Linked DNA regions of Homo sapiens: region 1 is linked to region 2. The links come from fine-mapping of genetic effects on gene expression. A gene starts in region 2. The other region holds a variant in brackets. All regions are shown on one strand. Distances are from middle to middle.

Region 1 (8,492 bases), 26 kb after region 2:
CTGGCAGTGTCCAGGCTCCCTGTCTGAGTGAGAGAGTCTGGCTTGCTTCACTCTCCCTCCTTCCCAATGCAGGCTAATTCTGGGGCTGCCTGTCTTTCCCATGAGGAATTCCCTGGCTCTGCTCCTTCTAGTGCTGGGTCAGTGCACAATGGTAAACAGGTTCTCTCCACCCTTCACTGGCCTTGGTGCCCTGGACCTCTGCCCAGCTCTCTACTCTGCTCAGCTCCACCCTACTCAGTGTGAGAAATGGTTCCTTTAGCACTAGCCTTGCTGGCTCCCAAAAAGAAAAACCAAGGTATCTACCTTCCTCTGATGCACTCATCTAGGGAAGGGCGTAGACCACAGAGAAACTCCCAAGCAGCTCTCCCTGACAACTGCAGAAAGGTATTAGATAGGGTCTTGCTCTGTCGCCCAAGATGGAGTGCAGTGGCATGATCTCGGCTCACTGCAGCCTCCGCCTCCTGGGCTTAAGCCATCCTCCCACCTCAGCCTCTCGAGTAGCTGGGACCATAGGCTCATGCTACCATGCCCCACTAAGTTTTGCATTTTTTGTAGAGACAAGGTTTCACCGTGTTGCCCAGGCTAGTCTCAAACTCCTGGGCTCAAGTGATCTGCCTGCATCAGCCTCCCAAAGTGTTAGGATTACGGGTATTAGTGACTGAGTGCCGCCTGAGACTATTCTCAACAGAAGACATCTTTTCTCCAAATCCCAGCTCCTACCAGGCAGAGTGCTGCTTGAAATTCCCTTGCTGGTGACTGAGTCCTTGGATCACAATCTCACTGCAGGCACCCAGGGGCCACCCTGACTCATCCTTACCAAACTGCTAGATCTCATTGATAGATCTTACCAAAATTAGTCTTGACTCACTGTTTATATAAGGCCCCTCCTCTGCCCAGACTCGTCCATGGCTCCCTACTGCCCTCATTATCCAACAGAAACCTCAGACCCTGTAGCTGGGCATTACGGCACACGCCCTGTCATCCCAGCTGCTCGGGAGACTGAAGTGGGAGGATCACTTGAGCTCAGGAGTTTGAAGCTGCAGTGAACCATGATTGTGCCACTGCACCCTAGACTGGGCCACTGGGTCACAGGGCAAGACCTTTTCTCAAAACAAACAAAACAAACAGAAAACAAAGAACAATAACAACAACAACAACAAAAACAACACAAAAAACAAAGAAACTTCAGGCCCTGGCTCTCAAGGCCCTCCTGTTCCCCTGCACATCCCTTTCTCCCCTAGTCCCATCTCTATAGGCCCCTACCCCTGAGCCATCTTCCTTCAACCCCCATTCAATTTTGGTGCCATCATCTTGGGAAGCATCATTCCAAACTCCTTCTCATCTCTACAAAGCCTCTCCTAACTACTCCAGGGACAGAACACAATCAGGCCCTCATTATATTCCATGCACACCTTTCTAGAGCCTGTGTTCCAGGCCCTGAATCTACAAAGATGAATAAAATGTGGTCCCTGCCCTTGAGGAGGTCAATCTGGCATCAACAAACAGGTAGGTAAATAACTAGCACACAGAGAAGAAGTGCCATCACAGGAGCATGTAGAAGGGGCTAGGAGACTGCAAAAAGACCCCAGGGTGAGGACGGGCTGTTTAGAGAAAGCTTTAAAGGGGAATTGACTTTTGAATTGGGGTTTGAAGGGTGACAGGAAGTAGCTAGGCTGAGAAAGGGGAAAGAACACACCAGGCAAAACACTCAGTATGTTCAAATGCTAGTTAATAGGAGAGGGAATGGCTTGTTTGGGGAATGTGAGCAGTCCAGTGGGACAGGTGGAGCTTCTCCACCTAAGGGCTGTTCTGCAGAGGCAGCATTTCATGAGAAGGCGCGTTCCTGGAGGGCAGGGGCTCTCTTGGCCTCATTCTCTGCAGTGTGTCCCAAGCCTGATACCTAGCTGGTGCTCAATAAATGTGTGTGTGTGTGTGTGTGTGTGTGTGTGTGTGTGTGTGTGTGTTGTTATTGTTGTTTTGAGACGGAGTCTTGCTCTGTCGCCCAGGCTGGAGTGCAGTGGCGCAATCTCGACTCACTGCAACCTCCGCCTCCCGGGTTCAAGCTATTCTCCTGCCTCAGCCTCCTGAGTAGCTGGGACTACAGGTGTGCGCCACCACGGCCAGCTAATTTTTTTTTTTTTTTTTTTTTTTTTTTTTTTTAGCAGAGACGGGGTTTCACCATGTTGGCCAGGATGGTCTCGATCTCCTGACCTCATGATCCACCCACCTCAGCCTCCCAAAGTGTAGGGATTACAGGCGTGAGCCACCGTGCCTGGCCAACAAATGTGTGTGTTGAGTGATTCATGAGCTTGGTGACCTCAGACACTCTGAATTTCATTAAGTGTTGTCAGCAGTGAAAAGGGAATATGCTCCTCTACCTTGATATCAGGTGGGTAAAGCATAGTAAGAACTTGATAAAGAGCATTCCCTCTCTGGCCTGGTACCAGCTCTAGATCTTCCTCAAAGCCCAGCACAGGGCTGAGCACAGATCTGCTTGATGATGGCATTTTATAACATTACAATTCTAATATTCAATTAACTTAACTGAATGTCTGTTATAACAACAGACGCTTGCTATGCACCAGACACTGTGTTCAGCACTTAACTTACATTATTTCATTTAATCCTGACAAGCCCATGAGATAAATCCTCTAATTATCAACTCCCTTTTGTGAATAAGGAAACTCAGGTTCTTCAGAAAGACAATAACTGGCCAAAGTCCAAGTCAAGCAGGGGATGGCACTGGAAAGTGAATCCGGGCCCTGCTCATCTCTCCCTCTGTCACTCAACTCCACCACCAAGTGCTGTCCAGTAGGCTGGGTATACACAGCCTTGCTCCTGAGGAGCTTGGAGCTCAGTGGACTCAGAGGCACAAGCTGTGTGATGCTTGGCAAGTCACTTTGCCTCTCTGGGACTTGGTTTCTGCTTCTTAAAATGGGGACTATGATGATAAATACTCTCACAGAATTAAACGAGGTGATGTAGGTGAAAGCCTCGTCCACCATACAGGCTCCTCTGTGAAATGGCATTACTGTGACTATCCTGGGAGGATGGAGGGGGTCACTCAGAAGCAGAACAGGAAGCTCAGGATGAAAGTCTACATGGTGCCAGGCACAGTAGCTCACGCCTATAATCCCAACATTTTGGGAGGCAGAGGCCAGAGGATTGCTTGAGGCCAGGAGTTTG[A/T]GACCAGCCTGGGCAAGAGAGTGAGACCCTGTCTCTACAAAATTGTTTTAAAAATTAGCCAGGCATAGTGCTGCATGTCTGTAGTCGTAGCTACTCAGGAGGCTGAGGTGGAAGATTGCTTGAGCCCAGGAGTTCAAGGCTGCAGTGAGCCATAATTGTGCCACTGCACTCCAGCCTGGGTGAGAGAGGGAGACCCTGACTCAAAAAAAAAAAAAAAACCCACCAAAAAAACACAAAAAACCCACAAAAAACCCACAGAGGAGGGTGGTGGTAATTATTAAGCAAACTCAGACTCCTTCCCCAAGTGACTACCACCACCCAGGAGGACAGAGGCCCCGGGCAGCACTCTGGTTGCAAGCCTTGAGTGGAATCTTTCGGGATGCCCACCTTTGCTCTTACTTCTGCTTATCTTTACAGACCAAGGAAAGGGAAGGTCAGGCCCTCAGATCACAGCCCTGCTCCAGATGACTCAGCGAGGAACTCATGGGGGGATTCCCAACCTGCCCTGGCAGGCCAGGAAGCTCCAGACCACAAGCTGAGTGGGACTGGCTCCTGCCTAACCTCCACGGTCGTGGGGTAGGTTGGAAGAGCACGTGAGGGAAGCCAGATTTTCACCCCAAAGCTGCATTGCTCCCTTACCATTATGCTAAATGTCTGAGGTAAAATCTCAGAGGGTAATTTACACTCGAATTGTGAGAGCCGCCATGTTCCACAGAGCCCTTACTTTGTGACAGACACTGTGCTGGGTGCTTTACCAACAACATCTCCCTTAATCCTAACAATACTCCTGCTCCCAATGCCACCGCCACACCCAGCTAATTTTTTTGTATTTTTAGTAGAGATACAGTTTCGCTATGTTGCCCAGGCTGGTCTTGAACTCCTGGACTGAAGTGATCTGTCCACCTTGGCCTCCCAGAGTACTGGGATTATAGGCATGAGCCACAGTGCCCAGCCTAGGTTCTCTTTCTTTGTGAAGCCAAGCGAAGATGAAAGGGAAAGCAGCAGCATTCTCCAAAAGTGGCTGGCCGCGGAAGATCGCTTCTGGACTCACAGTGTCCAAGGCCCAAAGCACTGAGTAGGGACAGGAGTTCTCCGAACTTATGCTCCTTCACTGGGTCACTCACGACCCAGCTACTCCTGCCTTGTCTTGGGGTACATATGAGGAGCTGTGTGTGGAGTCCTGGGACAGGAATTGTGTCATCCATCATGACAACTTAGCAACAAAAACAACCTGAAAAGCCTGGTAGGAGAAGTGCAGACACTTGGGGCTGGGCTGAAGTCCTAAGACTGGGACAGGAAGGGGAGGAGGAGAGGCCACACAGTGGTCACCAACTTTGGTAAGATGGGAAATTAGGAAGGAGGAATGCTGGGTGCCAGGCCCTGTTCCATCACTTGCTCACCCTTGGTTTCCTTATCAGGAAACAGGGTAAAATAATAGCCTACCAATTTCCCATTGCTCCTATAAGGGTTACTGAGAGGCAATGGAAATGAAAGCACTTTGCAGACTAAAGAGCTAGATAAATCAAAGCATCCCTTGATTTGATTACATTCCCAAAGTCCTGAGGGACACCGATCCTGCACACAAAGAGAAGTCCAGCCTGGTATGGTAGTTCATGCCTCTAATTCCAGCACTTTGGGAGGCAGAGGCAGGAAGATCACTTGAAGCCAGGAGTTTAAGACCAAGCTGGGCAAAAAAGTAAGACCCTGTCTCAATCAATCAATCAGAGATGTCCTCTCACAAGAGGAACAGAGCATGCTGGGAGCAGTGGTTTCTGTGGCATGTGCCATGGTGACTCCCCTGAACTTGCGTGGTACCACATAGAGAACTTCTCAAAGCACTGTTTTTGTTTTTGTTTTTTTTTTTTTGAGATAGGGTCTCCATTGCCCAGGCTGGAGTGCAGTAGTGCAATAATGGCTCACTGTAGCCTTGATTTCCCAGGCTCAAGTGATCCTCCTACCTCAGCCTCCCAAGTAGCTGGGACAACAGGTGCGCACCACTATGCCCAGCTAATTTTTAAATTATGGGATGTAGAGATGGGGTCTCCCTATGTTACTCAGGCTTCAAAACACTTTTCATATACTCCACGGTCAGTCTCAGGATGTCAGATGTAGCTGTCTTCAACACCATCCCACTAAAGCTGCCTTAGTTGGCTGGCACAGTGGCTCATGCCTATAACGTAAGCACTTTGGGAGGCTGAGGAGGGAGGATCGCTTGTGCCCAGGAGTTTGAAACCAGCCTGGGCAACATAGTGAGACTCTGTCTCTACAAAAAGTAAAAAAAGTAGCCAGGCATGGTGGCTTCAGCCTGTAATCCCAGCTACTCAGGAGGCTGAGGTGGGAAGATCGCTTGTGCCTGGGAGGTTGAGGCTGCAGTGAGCTGTGATTGCACCACTGCATTCCAGCCTGGGTGACAGAGCCAGACCCTGTCTCTTAAAAACAAACACACATACACACACACATACAAACTGCGTAGTTTTTATGTGGGGAAAACCGAGGTTAAAAAGATTAAGCAACTTTTGACCGGCATGGTGGCTCATGCCTGTAATCCCAGCATTTTGGAAGGCCAAGGTGGGTGGATCACCTGAGGTCAGGAGTTTGAGACCAACCTGGCCAACATGGCAAAACCCTGTCTCTACTAAAAATGCAAAAATTAGCCGGGCATGGTGGTGGGCACCTAAAACCCCAGCTACTCGGGAGGCTGAGGCATGAGAATCGCTTGAACCGGAAGGCAGAGGTTGCAGTGAGCCAAGATCAATTGTGCCATTTCACTCCAGCCTGCGCAAAAGAGCAAAACTCCATCTCAAAAAAACAAAACAAAACAAAACAAAACCAAGATTAAGCAACTTTCTCAAGGTCACACAGCTAGTTAGTGGCTCAGTAAGGCATAGGGTTAAGGTCTCCAGATCTCCGTTCAGCAGTATTTGTTTACACTATGCTCCTAATCCAATTATCTCATTTGATCCTCACAATCCTTTGTATACAACCACACCTGGTAACTTCTTTCTCTTTTTAAAATTTTTTTTAGAAATGGGGTCTCGCTCTGTCACCCAGGCTGGAGTGCAGTGGCACAATCACAGCTCACTGCAGCCTCAAACTCCCAGGCTCAGCCTCAGCCTCTGTAGTAGCTAGGACTACCGGCACGTGCCACCATGCCCAGCTAATTTATTTTTTAGAGACAGGGTCTCACTATGTTGACCAGACTGGTTGAAACTACTTGTTTAATGTCTGATTTCCCTGTGAGGGCAAGATCAGGTCTATATCCTGAGCCTAGCACAGGGCTACACATATAGTAAGTGCTGGGTGAAAAAAACTGGAAGCATTAGCCCCATGGTTGGGTGAGGGATGTGCCTAAGTCACATATTACAAAGGTCAGTGGTGGAGCCATCACTGACACTCTGACCCTGTGCCTGGTTCAGAGCCCTTTCTCAAACACTAGCCTAAAATCCACATTTCCAGCCAGAATCTCTCATCTCCGGATGCCACTGGTGGTGCCCCTTGTAAGTGCTGAGGGGTTTGCCTTCTCACAGGTTTTGTCCCAGCCAAGGCACCACCTCTAAGAACAGAATAAAGGTGCTAGGTGAGGTCAAACAAGCCTCCAGTTGCCAAGTGCCTCCCCTTGATCAGTGTATGCTGTGTCCAAAGGCCCAAACCCACCCTTCCCAGTTGCCATACCACCCTAAGGTAGGTTTTCCATGTCCTCAGGCCCCAGTCCTCTCTTCTGGTTCTCCTTGCATCCTTCCTTATCATCCAATATGTCTGCCAGGCAGAGACCAGGAAGCTCAACACCGCTTATCCTATTCCTTCCCCAACCAGGTCAGCCAACCCACTCTCCTGCTGGAAGGAGACAAAGAACCCCTTGATGTGCCCGGGGCAAGCCAGCCATACCAGGCACCTTGGGGAGCCCAGAGCTGTGACAACGCAGAGTCACAGCAGCCCACTGCCCTCTTCAGAGGAAGGCCACAGCTGGCCTTGCTTCCCTGTAGCCAGAGGGCTCCAGAATGGACTCTGTAAGAGGCCAAAGCCACTTCAGCTAGTCCAGAGCCTTCCTACCTCTCCATCAGCCCACATGGCAGTCATGAACCAAGCACTAATGATTTGCCAGCCTCTTTATCCTCACTGCTCCAGACCTCTTCCAGGTCTCACCACAGCCCTTTTAGGCCATCCTTGATTCTCCCAACAGGTCTCACTGCCTGCAATCCAGCTCCTCTTTATGCCGTCTTCCATGCCAGACCTGGACTAACTTTTATGCAACACAGGAGGCCTCAGCCTGACATTCAAGGCTGGACTCAGACCGCCCAACCCATTTCCTGGACTAACTTTTATGCAACACAAGAGGCCTCAGCCTGACATTCAAGGCTAGACTGAGACTGCCCAACCCATTTCCCTAACCTACCCTTGCTTCGTATCATTCTACTGCCTCCCGTTCTTCTTGTCGTATCATCCTACTGCCTCCCGTTCTTCTTGTCATCTCTGCTCTTGCCACACATGCTCAAACGACTGCTTTTGGGAGGGACTTTGCACATGGGCCCCCTCTCATCCAATGGACTGCCCTGCTTTGCCTCTTCTGAAGCCTGGATCAAATGCTACTACTTTCTAGGCTCCTGCAGGTGGGGCTGGCTGCTTTTTCCTCTGTACTCCCAGAGCAACTGCATGCCTCAATGACAGCCTTCATCACTCAACACTGGAAAGATTTGTCTGTGGTTCTATTTTTCAGCAAGTCTGTGAGTGCCTTGAGGGCAATAAAACACAGACATCTTGTTCAGTTCTATATCTCTTGTCCAAATCACAGGGTCTGACAGAGTAGGTGCTCAATAAATGTGTGGTAAATAAGCTCACTGCTAAGATGGATAAGCTGGCAAAAGTAAGCCTTGGTTTGCTCTCCCAGGCTGCTGGGTCTGCTGAGTATTTCTCTACCTGAAGAGGTGTTGAGTGCTAAGCTATGGCAGCCTCTGAAGACCTGGACAGGGCACAGAATGGAGTAGGGTAGGGTAGGGGGAGGAGAGACGGGAAATGGAAGGATGAGACAGAGAAAGCCAAAGTTGGCAGCTGCCCTGAAATCCTAGGTGGGGGCTTCTAAGCTGGTTAAGTATCAGGAGCATTGACTTGCCAGTGGGGTGGCCAGTACAGTGTTCTCCCTGCTGGAGAGGGTCTCTGGGCCCAGGATTGCGGCAATAGATTTACCAGGGGCAGACTAATCAGTTAAAGGAGGCCTCCTACCCCTCAAGTGTACTGTCTGCAGGATAAAGTGATCAGCTAGGACAACGGATGGATGATGGCAGGGCTCTGCTCTAGTCGGCAATGCATCC
Region 2 (8,441 bases):
GTGTCCGCGTAAAAGCCGGTGCCTGCACGCAGCTTACATACAGAGAGCGGAACGAGGGTCCCCAGCAGAACAGGGGGCTCGTTCCAGAGCTTAAGGAAATAGCTTAGAGAAGTCTTTGGAAGCCTGGGTCGAGGGGAGAGCAGGGAGGCTGCTCTGTTGCCCATGGGCCTCAGGAAGCCAGGCCTTCCTGCCGCCGCTGGAGGACCTCGATGACGCTGCCGATACCGTCCTCGGGCACCTGAGGGCAGGTGGGCAGGAGGGAAGGGTCAAGGCGGAAGCTGGCCAGGGCCACCCCTGACTTCCTGGCCCAGCTGAGACTACCTCCTGCCGCCCACATTTCTGGGCCTCACTCTCCCCTCTGCCCCAGCCCTTGGTGCTCACCAGGGCGTGGTCGAAGTTGAAGGTGCTGATGTAGTAGGCAGAGATGTCAGCGGCAGCCAGGGGACCTGCAATCTGTGCCACGATGCCACATTCATCTGAGGGTGGTGGAGGAAGGCCACATGTGGCACATGCCGGTTGCTCCCCAGACACTCCCCAGCCCCCCAACACCGGGAACAGCCCTCACCAAAGCCCAGGGGCTGTCCACCGATGCGCACCATCCTCCACAGCTCCCCCGAGGAGCTGGTCAGCAGGAGGTCACTGGGGAACCTGGGGAGGGAGATGGGTGATGGGCAGGGCACCCCCATCCACCCCTGCCTGACCGTGAGCTCTGGGACAGGTACACCTGCTGACCTCAGAGTCTGATGCCCCACCTCCTCCCTGCCTGGGACTGGCTGGGGCCTGGGGCCCACCCGGGGTCAGGGGTCACCTACTTTTTCTGTGTTTCAGCATCCATGACAATGGAGATATAACCCTCGATGAGGGAGAAGGCAAAGAACGTGATGGAGCTGGGTTCAGGACTGCTAGAGGCTGCCTCCTTGGGGGTGCTGGGGAGGGATGGGAGGTTTAGGGGCTCTACCAGGCACCCAGCCTACTGCCCCTGCTCCCGATCAGCCTCCAGAACCCTGGGAAGGAGCTGGTATGGTGGCCTGGGCAGGCTCTGCCATATCTGCTACCCGCCCAAGGGTCCAGCCCTCTGGAAGGTGTGGGTGGGGATGGGGGAGGACAATGAACCCAGCCTGTGCCAAAAACAAAGGATTCCACGGTGAGAGGGCCAGACCAGGGCATGGCTCAGACGACCCCACTGGAAAGGGATCCAGCTTTGGGGCAAGAACCTTCCCCGAACATCAGTGAAGCACAAGTGAGCATCATGGGCTGCCAGGAACCCCAAGAGAGGACAAGCAAGAGGTGCAAAACTGATAGATGGGCGGAAAGTGGTGGGACAGAGTGTAGGGAACAGTGCTGTGAGGACAAAGACGAAGTTCCAAGGTCCACCTGTGCGAGTAGAAGAGGACATCTATGAGGGTGGTGGCGATGGCTGGAAGCGTCTCAGGGTCCAGTGTGAGGACACAGAAGCGGTTCTGTGGGCTCTGGATGGGATGCACCGTGGGGCTGGGCCCTGCTGGAGGACAGCAGCAGGTGAAAAGGTGTCCGTGGGCTGGGGCGCCCCCTGGTGGCTAGTCAGGGAGAGGCGTGGGCCAGGGGCAGGTCTTGCTATCCAGGAACTGGCCGGGGTCCTCCTGCCCCACTGGGGCCCAAAAGGGAAGGGACCCAGTGGGAAGAGGAGGCCCTGCCCAAGTCCAAGTGTCAGGGGGCGGCCCTCACCATGCTGAGTGCGGGGAAAGCCATTGCTGGAATCATCCCTCGTCACAGGCACAGGCTCTCCGCCCACCTCGCGGTAAATGTCGAACTCCTGGGCCAGCGTGTGGATCACCACGGACAGGTCCTGCTCCCGCACCTGGGCCACAGCAGATGGCACATCACATGGGCTCCCAGGTACCTATATCCACCCTGCTCTGCATCAGCACCAGCAGGAAACTCACCAGGATGAAGTCCGTCTGGTAAGTGGACAGCATCAGCACAGACACGTGGTGCTCGGCCAGTGGCGCGATGACCGAACGGGCGATCTTGGTGACCCCAGCAGCCTGCACTGCCGCACCGCTGTGAGACGACACGTTCAGCACCAGCCATGTGGCCTCAGCTACTTGCAGGAACTCAGATGGGGGCAGCTCTGTGGGCAGGGGACATGTCAGGTCAGGGTCTACAAGGCTGGCCCCTGCCCCTCTCTGAGCCTCAGTTTCCCTTTCTGTGCCTTGGAGGGCTCCATCAAGGTAAGGGCAGGTCTGGAGGCTGGGGCTCCTGAAGTCCCTATGTGTGCAAAGACTGAGAAAGGCTTCAAGTGCTGGCCTGGTGGCATTGAAACTTCCCACTTAAGATCAGAGGTCCAGATTCAGACAGACCTGGGTTCAAATCCCAGCTTTGTTAATTTGTCTTATGACCTGGGGTGGGTGATTTGAGTCTCAGTTTCCTCATCTGTAAAATGGGACGACAATATCTACCTCACTACGGTGTCTTCTGTGGGTTAGCAGAAGCTTTGTACCACATGGCACCACCAGGGGGCATTCGCAGATCAGGTTGGCTGGGGGATTGCCTTCCCCTTTTGCAGACCCAGACTTCTGAAGTAAAAACAGGGAAACTAAGGCCTGCAGTGGAGCATGGGGACAGGCTAAGCTCCAGCTAGCTGGCCTGAGACTCCAAGCCTGTGAGGATGGGCAGGGCCAGCAGCAGGAGGAGGAGCTAGGCGTCAGCTCCAGGCCCCAGGGAGGGCCCAGGCTGGCGTCCAGTCCTGAGCTGGGGCCAGGGCCTGGGTGGCTGCTATTCACCCCAGCACAGCCAGGAGGCCTCCAGGACCCTCCCCTGAGATGGCTGCCTGCTCCTGCATTCCTTCCCTCAGACTCCTGGAGTTTCCAGACCAGCAGGGGAGGAGGTGACCCAAACCAGAGAGTAAGACCAGGAGGAAATAATACCCAGGGATTTCTAACAGCAGCACTTGACTGGAATCATAACAGAGGCCCTTCTGCAGGCCTAAGACTGCTGAGTGCCCCTCAGCGGTTTTAAGTTTATAAAGGCCTCATGGGACCCTATGTATCAGAACCATAACTATACCCATTTTACATAAGAGAAAACAGCTCAGAGAGGGAAAGTGATTTGCTCAAGGGCACACAGCCAGGGAGTGGTGGAGTAGGATTCGAACCCCGACCCATCTGCTTTTAAGGCTTAAGCTCTTGGGACGGATCCCAGCAACTGGTGAGAACCCTACAGAAGGGGAGCACGACAAGCCCCTCCCGTACTCCCGTTCCCCAGACCAACCCCCACCTTTAAAGCCCTCCTCGTCCACCATAAGCGTGTAATCCTCAGGGGTCTCCGTCAGGCTGAAGAACTTGCACCTGGTTGGGGGTGGGGAGCATCTTCAGCTTGGTGTGGAGAACTAGGGGTCGGGAGTGGATTTCTCTCCATCTGCCCCGAGACACCCCCGCGACCCTGGGCCGGGCGCCTTCTTGCCCTCTCGGCCTTTAATTTCCAGGCCAATGGGATGTTAGCCCCATCTCGGGGGTTGGGGGCTACTTTCCGGCCTCCCGACCTCTCCAGGAACCCTCCACCCCTCCACTCCTGGAGGGAGGAGAGGTTCACACCCGCGGCGACAGCCCCAGGGGCGTCGGACCTTGGACCCCCTAGTCCAGCCCCTCTGACATGAAGGGAGGCGTCCTGGAAGGAGCTCCCCGCAGTGACCAGGTAGGAATGCCCCCATTTGACACTACTGAGTTAAGCATTGCCCATCCCAGGCTGTTTGCGCTTTGCCCCTGGGAGGGGGCCTCACGGGGCCGGATAGGCGGCGGTCCCCCAGGCCGGATGGCGGCCGGACGGGGAGAGTCCTCCCCACCCGCTCCCGCCCGCCTGCCTGCCTGCCTTACGGCGATCCTAATCCTCCGACCCTGGCCCGGAGCGAGAGCAGAGCCCCCAGCCCCTATCTGCGCTCCCGAACCCGGGCGCGCACCGGCTGCGGCGGGGCAGGAAGAGCAGCTTGATGAGCGGGTGGGTGTAGAGCCAGAGACCGGGACGGGCGACGCTCAGCACCCGCACCCGGTGTTCTAGGATGTGCAGCTCCATCGCGGCTCGCGCGGACCCGACCCCGCCGCCAACTAGACCCAGGCCGCACGGGAGGCGGGGCGGCGGGGGTGGTGCCCGAGCCTTAAAGGAGCCGCTGCGCTGCCGCGTCCACGCCGCCCGCTGCGAGGCTGACCCGCCCAGCCAGGCGCGGCGTCCGGCTCCTTGACGGCCACGCCCCGCGGGAAGAGAAGCCTATTGGGTGGTCACGCCTCCTCCTAACGCCAGAACCTCATCCCGCTTTCCAGCCAGCCCACCGAGACCGCCCCGAACGGCTCCGCCTTTTTTAGTACTGGCTCGGGGATAGACCCCACCCCGTCTGACTCCTCCAGGCCCCGCCCCTGACGCGCCCCCTCCCTGGGCTCCGCCCTTTCCGCGGAAAGCCAGCTGCGCAGCCGGTGGGAGCATCCCGGAGGGGACGTTTCTGTCCTTCTGGCACACACGTGGGTTTCATGATTGAAGTCCTTGAGACAGAAGGGACACGAAACAAACTGGAGCTCGGCTAGGACCAGAACGCTGCCCCCAAATCCCCGGAGCAATGAGAGGCACAGGTCTGCTGTGCAGCGCTGTCCCCCGGGCGCCTTTCGCTCTCCTGCCTCTCATGGCTGCAGGGGGCAGGGCCGCCAACACAGGATTGCGATTGATACCTACCCTTCCCCGCTTGCGAGGGGGCTGACAAATTGAAACCTGGCCTGGTAGCCCCACTTGTTCCTTTCATCCAACTTTCAAAATAGAAGGCTCCTCACCAGGGGCACACAGAGGTAGAATCCTAGCCACCTCTGCCTGAGCGACATACTTTGGGTTAGGGGGCTGCAGGTGGCCAAGGCCTAAGGCTTGAGGTCCCTCGATACCAACAAAACCCGGAAGTGCTTGAGCCAGTAATGCCCAGTGCTCAGACTTTGGTGGGGGAGGCCCTTGCAGCTGAGGTTCAGTGAGTACTCAGACCTCAAGCCTGAAACTTGAGCCCCAAAGCCTGCAGCCCTTAGCTAGCCTGTGCACATCTAAACTTGCTTCAGGTTCAAGGAGGCCCCCGGCACTGGCAGACACCCCAGATCTTATCAGGCCTTCACAGGTCTAAGACCCCCCCAAGGCTAAGCAGGCATCAGCATGTCCATGTTGGCTCCATGCAGGGCTGAGAATGCTCCAGGGGACCCTTGCCTGGCCTGAGCACCCTGAGGCCTCAGATGTGAGGCTTTGAACCAAGTAGACTAAAGCAGGCCTCAGGCCTGATTGGGACCCAGCAGGCCTAAGCAGGCCCTCTGCCTGCTCTGGAGCCCCCACCATAGGCAGATGGAAGCCAAGCTAAGCCTCCTCCCTGGACTCTCGGGCTTGACACATTCCTGTGAAACACTATGTAGCCACCACATCCTGGCCTATCCCCTGGAGGACTAGGGGAAGGAGGAGCTTCTCAAAGGCTGAGCCCATCTCATCAATGGCAGGTGCAGACAGAGTGGGAAACCATGGGGCTGAGGGGAAGGAGGCAGGAAGTGGAGTGGCCTACCCTGATAGTCTCTTGAAACCCTTCACCTCCCTAGGCCTCAGTATCCCCAGCTGTACCAGGACAGGATGTTCCAGGCCCAGGCGAAGGCTGAAAGCTCCCAGGGAGGCTCTGCTCCTCCCTCTCCTGCCCCCTCCCGCTATGGCCTGGCCTGGCCCAGCTTGGTCATCTGCCAGGAATAGCGCTATTGTTTGACTGGAAAAGCTGCTTCCTCAGCAGAAGGGGGGCCTCTCCCAGGGACACCCTGTCCTTGCCCTCACCAGTCATCAGGTTGTGACCGCAGTGCCTGCCTGGGCCCTCAAGGGCAGAGTCAGGTCTCCTGGAGCCCTGGTCAGGAGAGGAAGCTGAGTGAGGGGCTCTTGGTGCAAATCCGGCTGAGGCTTTCCCATTCAGCTCCTGTTTCCTCGTCTGTTAAATGGGGCTAATGGAGCCTACTTGACCAGTCCAGCCTGGCACTTGGCAGTAAATCGAAGGCGGCATTTTATCAAAGAACCACAATTCGCCCCCCTCCCTGAGGGCCTGGGCTGAGCCTGTGAGGACATTCGTGGTGCTCCACTCCGGGCCCCGTCCCTGACCCCAACCCAGAATCAGCTCTCAGAAACTTACTGGAGCCTGAGGTAGCATCCAGGCCAGGACTTGAAGGAGGAAGACCCTGAAACCTCCTCCTTAGGAGTCCCTGCCCCCTTGGTGGGTGGGTGAGGACCAAGGCCTAGGGAGCACGCCCTGCTCTGCCCAGCACTGAGCTCCAGCCCTGGTGTCCCTCATCTGTGGCAGAAGGTAGACATAAGGCAGTGGGGATGGGGTGAGTGAAAATGGGGGTTAAGAATGGGGGCTGACCAGGGACTTGGCATGTCCTCTGGCAAAGGTACCTCTCAGAGAGGCTCTGGTGCTGGGCTGGGGCCCAGGAGAAGGGGCTCTGTAGGGCAAAGAGAAGAGATGCTGAGCACCAAGGTGACCAAGGTGGTACCCCCTTCCCAGCCCCTAGCTGTACACGAGCTCTCTATACAAGGCTGTTTATTTCTGTACAAAACCATGTTTCTATTTTACACAAAGAACACCCCACCCTTTCCCCTCACACCAGCACCCTAACCCTGGGGAGCATCCCCCAGGAGGAGGGGGCTGAAGGAGGCCCCACCCCCCAGGCCCTAGCTTCTGCCTGCCCTGGCTGGGCCAGCCTGAGTGCCACTGTAAAGAAAATAAATAAGGAGGCTCAGGCAGAATCTGTGTTGGACCAGGCAGAATCTGTGTTGGACCAGCCAGACTCCAGCCCAGCCCAGTGGCCAGGCAGCTTGGCCCTCAGAGGGTGGGCAGGATGTGGAATGTCAGTTCATGAACCGTGTAGTTATATGGAGACCCCGCCCTGGAGGCCTTAGCTGCCAGGGTTACAAGTAGGTGTCCTCACTCTCTTGGGACGTCAAGCTCTCCTGGGAGCGGTGGTGGGCTGAGACCTGGGGAGCCAAATCCTGAGGGGCTGAGTCCTTGGGGGCTGAGTCCTTCGGGGGCACATGCTGTGGGGGACATGCATCTCCTGCAGCGGCCACCACCATGGCTTGATTTGGGGCTGGGGGCTTCTCCAGCTGCCCTCTCCCCTTCATCTGTTTCCGCTGCTCCTTCTGGGCCTGCTTGGGTGGCTTGGGCTTGGCTTTGGAGCCAGGGAGGGGGGCATCTAGGGGCAGGCGGATGGATGGTGAAGGTTGTAGGGCAGGCCGGGGACCAGGTTCTGCATCCAAGATAGCCTTGGCACCATGCAGCCTGGGCGGGGAGCGGCACTGCAGCTCACCCCGGGTCTCCTGCCAGCGCCGCAGCTGAATGAGGTGTTCGCGCTCAATCTGGCGCTCTGTCACGGGCAACTCCACCACCTGCAGGGGCAGTGACACAGGCAAGTGGACACCAAGAAGAAGGACCTTCCCCTTCTGCCTCCCAGCCTGGGCCCCCAGTCTTCCTCAGCATCCCCCAGCCTTGGCCACTAAACACTGACCCCAGGAAGGATGAGGGTCTAGTCCCAAGCTGCAGTCACGAGCCCCACAGCTGAGTGCCAGGTGAGCTGGACACTTGAGACCCACCGCCTCAGAGGATAAAGCTGCCCACAGCTTCACGAGTCCACCTGCCTGACTATGGGGCTAAAGGGGTAAGACCCAGACAGACAAAAACCTGCTCTCTGCCAACCTGTCACCCACCGCTGCCCAGGGCAGCCTGGCTGCTTAGGCTCAAATTCCAGCTCCACCTGGGTGGGTGACTTTAAGGGGAGTTGCTTAGTGATTCTGCCTCTGTGAGCCTCCATTTCCTCATGTGTAAAAGCTGGTCACGCATGTTCCACCTAATTGCCCCTGAGAGACAAGTATCCATAAAGAAAGAACAAAGAGAAATAAGAGCCAAGGCTGCGAATGGGGTACCAGGGAGGAAGACGGGGCCGTGGGTCAACATTCTTCTTCATTCCCAAGCGGCTCGGATCCAGAAGGCCCTGCAGAGCCAAGCCTCTCTGTGCCCCATGCTCTTCACCAGACAGAAGGATGAGGTCCACCCACATGTTCTGTGTTGCCTAGCAATGGTCCTGGCATAGGATCCACCCTCAGGGGCTGAGGGTTAGCGGGACCCCCTTCAAAGGACCCCCACCTGTCTTCCTCCCTCCCCATGATAAGGGGCAGGCATGGGCTGTACCTCCTGGACCAGAAAGGCCTCCTGCATGATCTTGGGGCTGAGGCTCCGCAGTCGCTCGATGGTCTCGTACTGGCCCTGGCAGGCTTTGACCTTCTCAGGGGAGCCCAGCGCGTGCTTCAGCAGCACCAGCCCCACCCGGAAGATGATCTTGACCCCTGCATGGGGGATGGGCAGTAAGTACAAGGAAGCTTTTTGGGGTTTCTCTGCAAAGAGAGGCCCCACTGTGGGCTGCTGGGGACAG

Evidence for each region. PIP is the estimated chance that this variant, and not a neighbour inherited with it, causes the effect. A credible set is the group of variants that fine-mapping cannot tell apart.
Region 1: its variant is the best candidate, but not a certain one, in a credible set for the expression of CASTOR1 in whole blood (INTERVAL, PIP 0.60).

The regions. Positions count from the first base shown.
Region 1 is chr22:30,311,423-30,319,914 of GRCh38, forward strand. The region is part of intron 1 of TBC1D10A (TBC1 domain family member 10A); the gene reads right to left. Among named protein-coding and RNA genes, the nearest start is that of TBC1D10A, 11 kb to the right of the region's middle. RefSeq lists an enhancer at 3,416-3,475. The variant A/T (reference allele first, on the strand shown) is at 3,187.
Region 2 is chr22:30,285,451-30,293,891 of GRCh38, forward strand. CASTOR1 (cytosolic arginine sensor for mTORC1 subunit 1) reads right to left here and starts at 4,055. Exons shown (of 9, transcript NM_001037666.3): 1 at 3,935-4,055; 2 at 3,256-3,326; 3 at 1,923-2,110; 4 at 1,705-1,837; 5 at 1,375-1,498; 6 at 813-926; 7 at 566-648; 8 at 382-476; 9 at 1-238. The coding sequence starts at 4,047. The coding sequence ends at 170. TBC1D10A (TBC1 domain family member 10A) reads right to left here. Exons shown (of 9, transcript NM_031937.3): 8 at 8,201-8,355; 9 at 6,540-7,401. The coding sequence ends at 6,925. RefSeq lists silencers at 3,713-3,792, 3,993-4,432 and an enhancer at 5,313-5,372.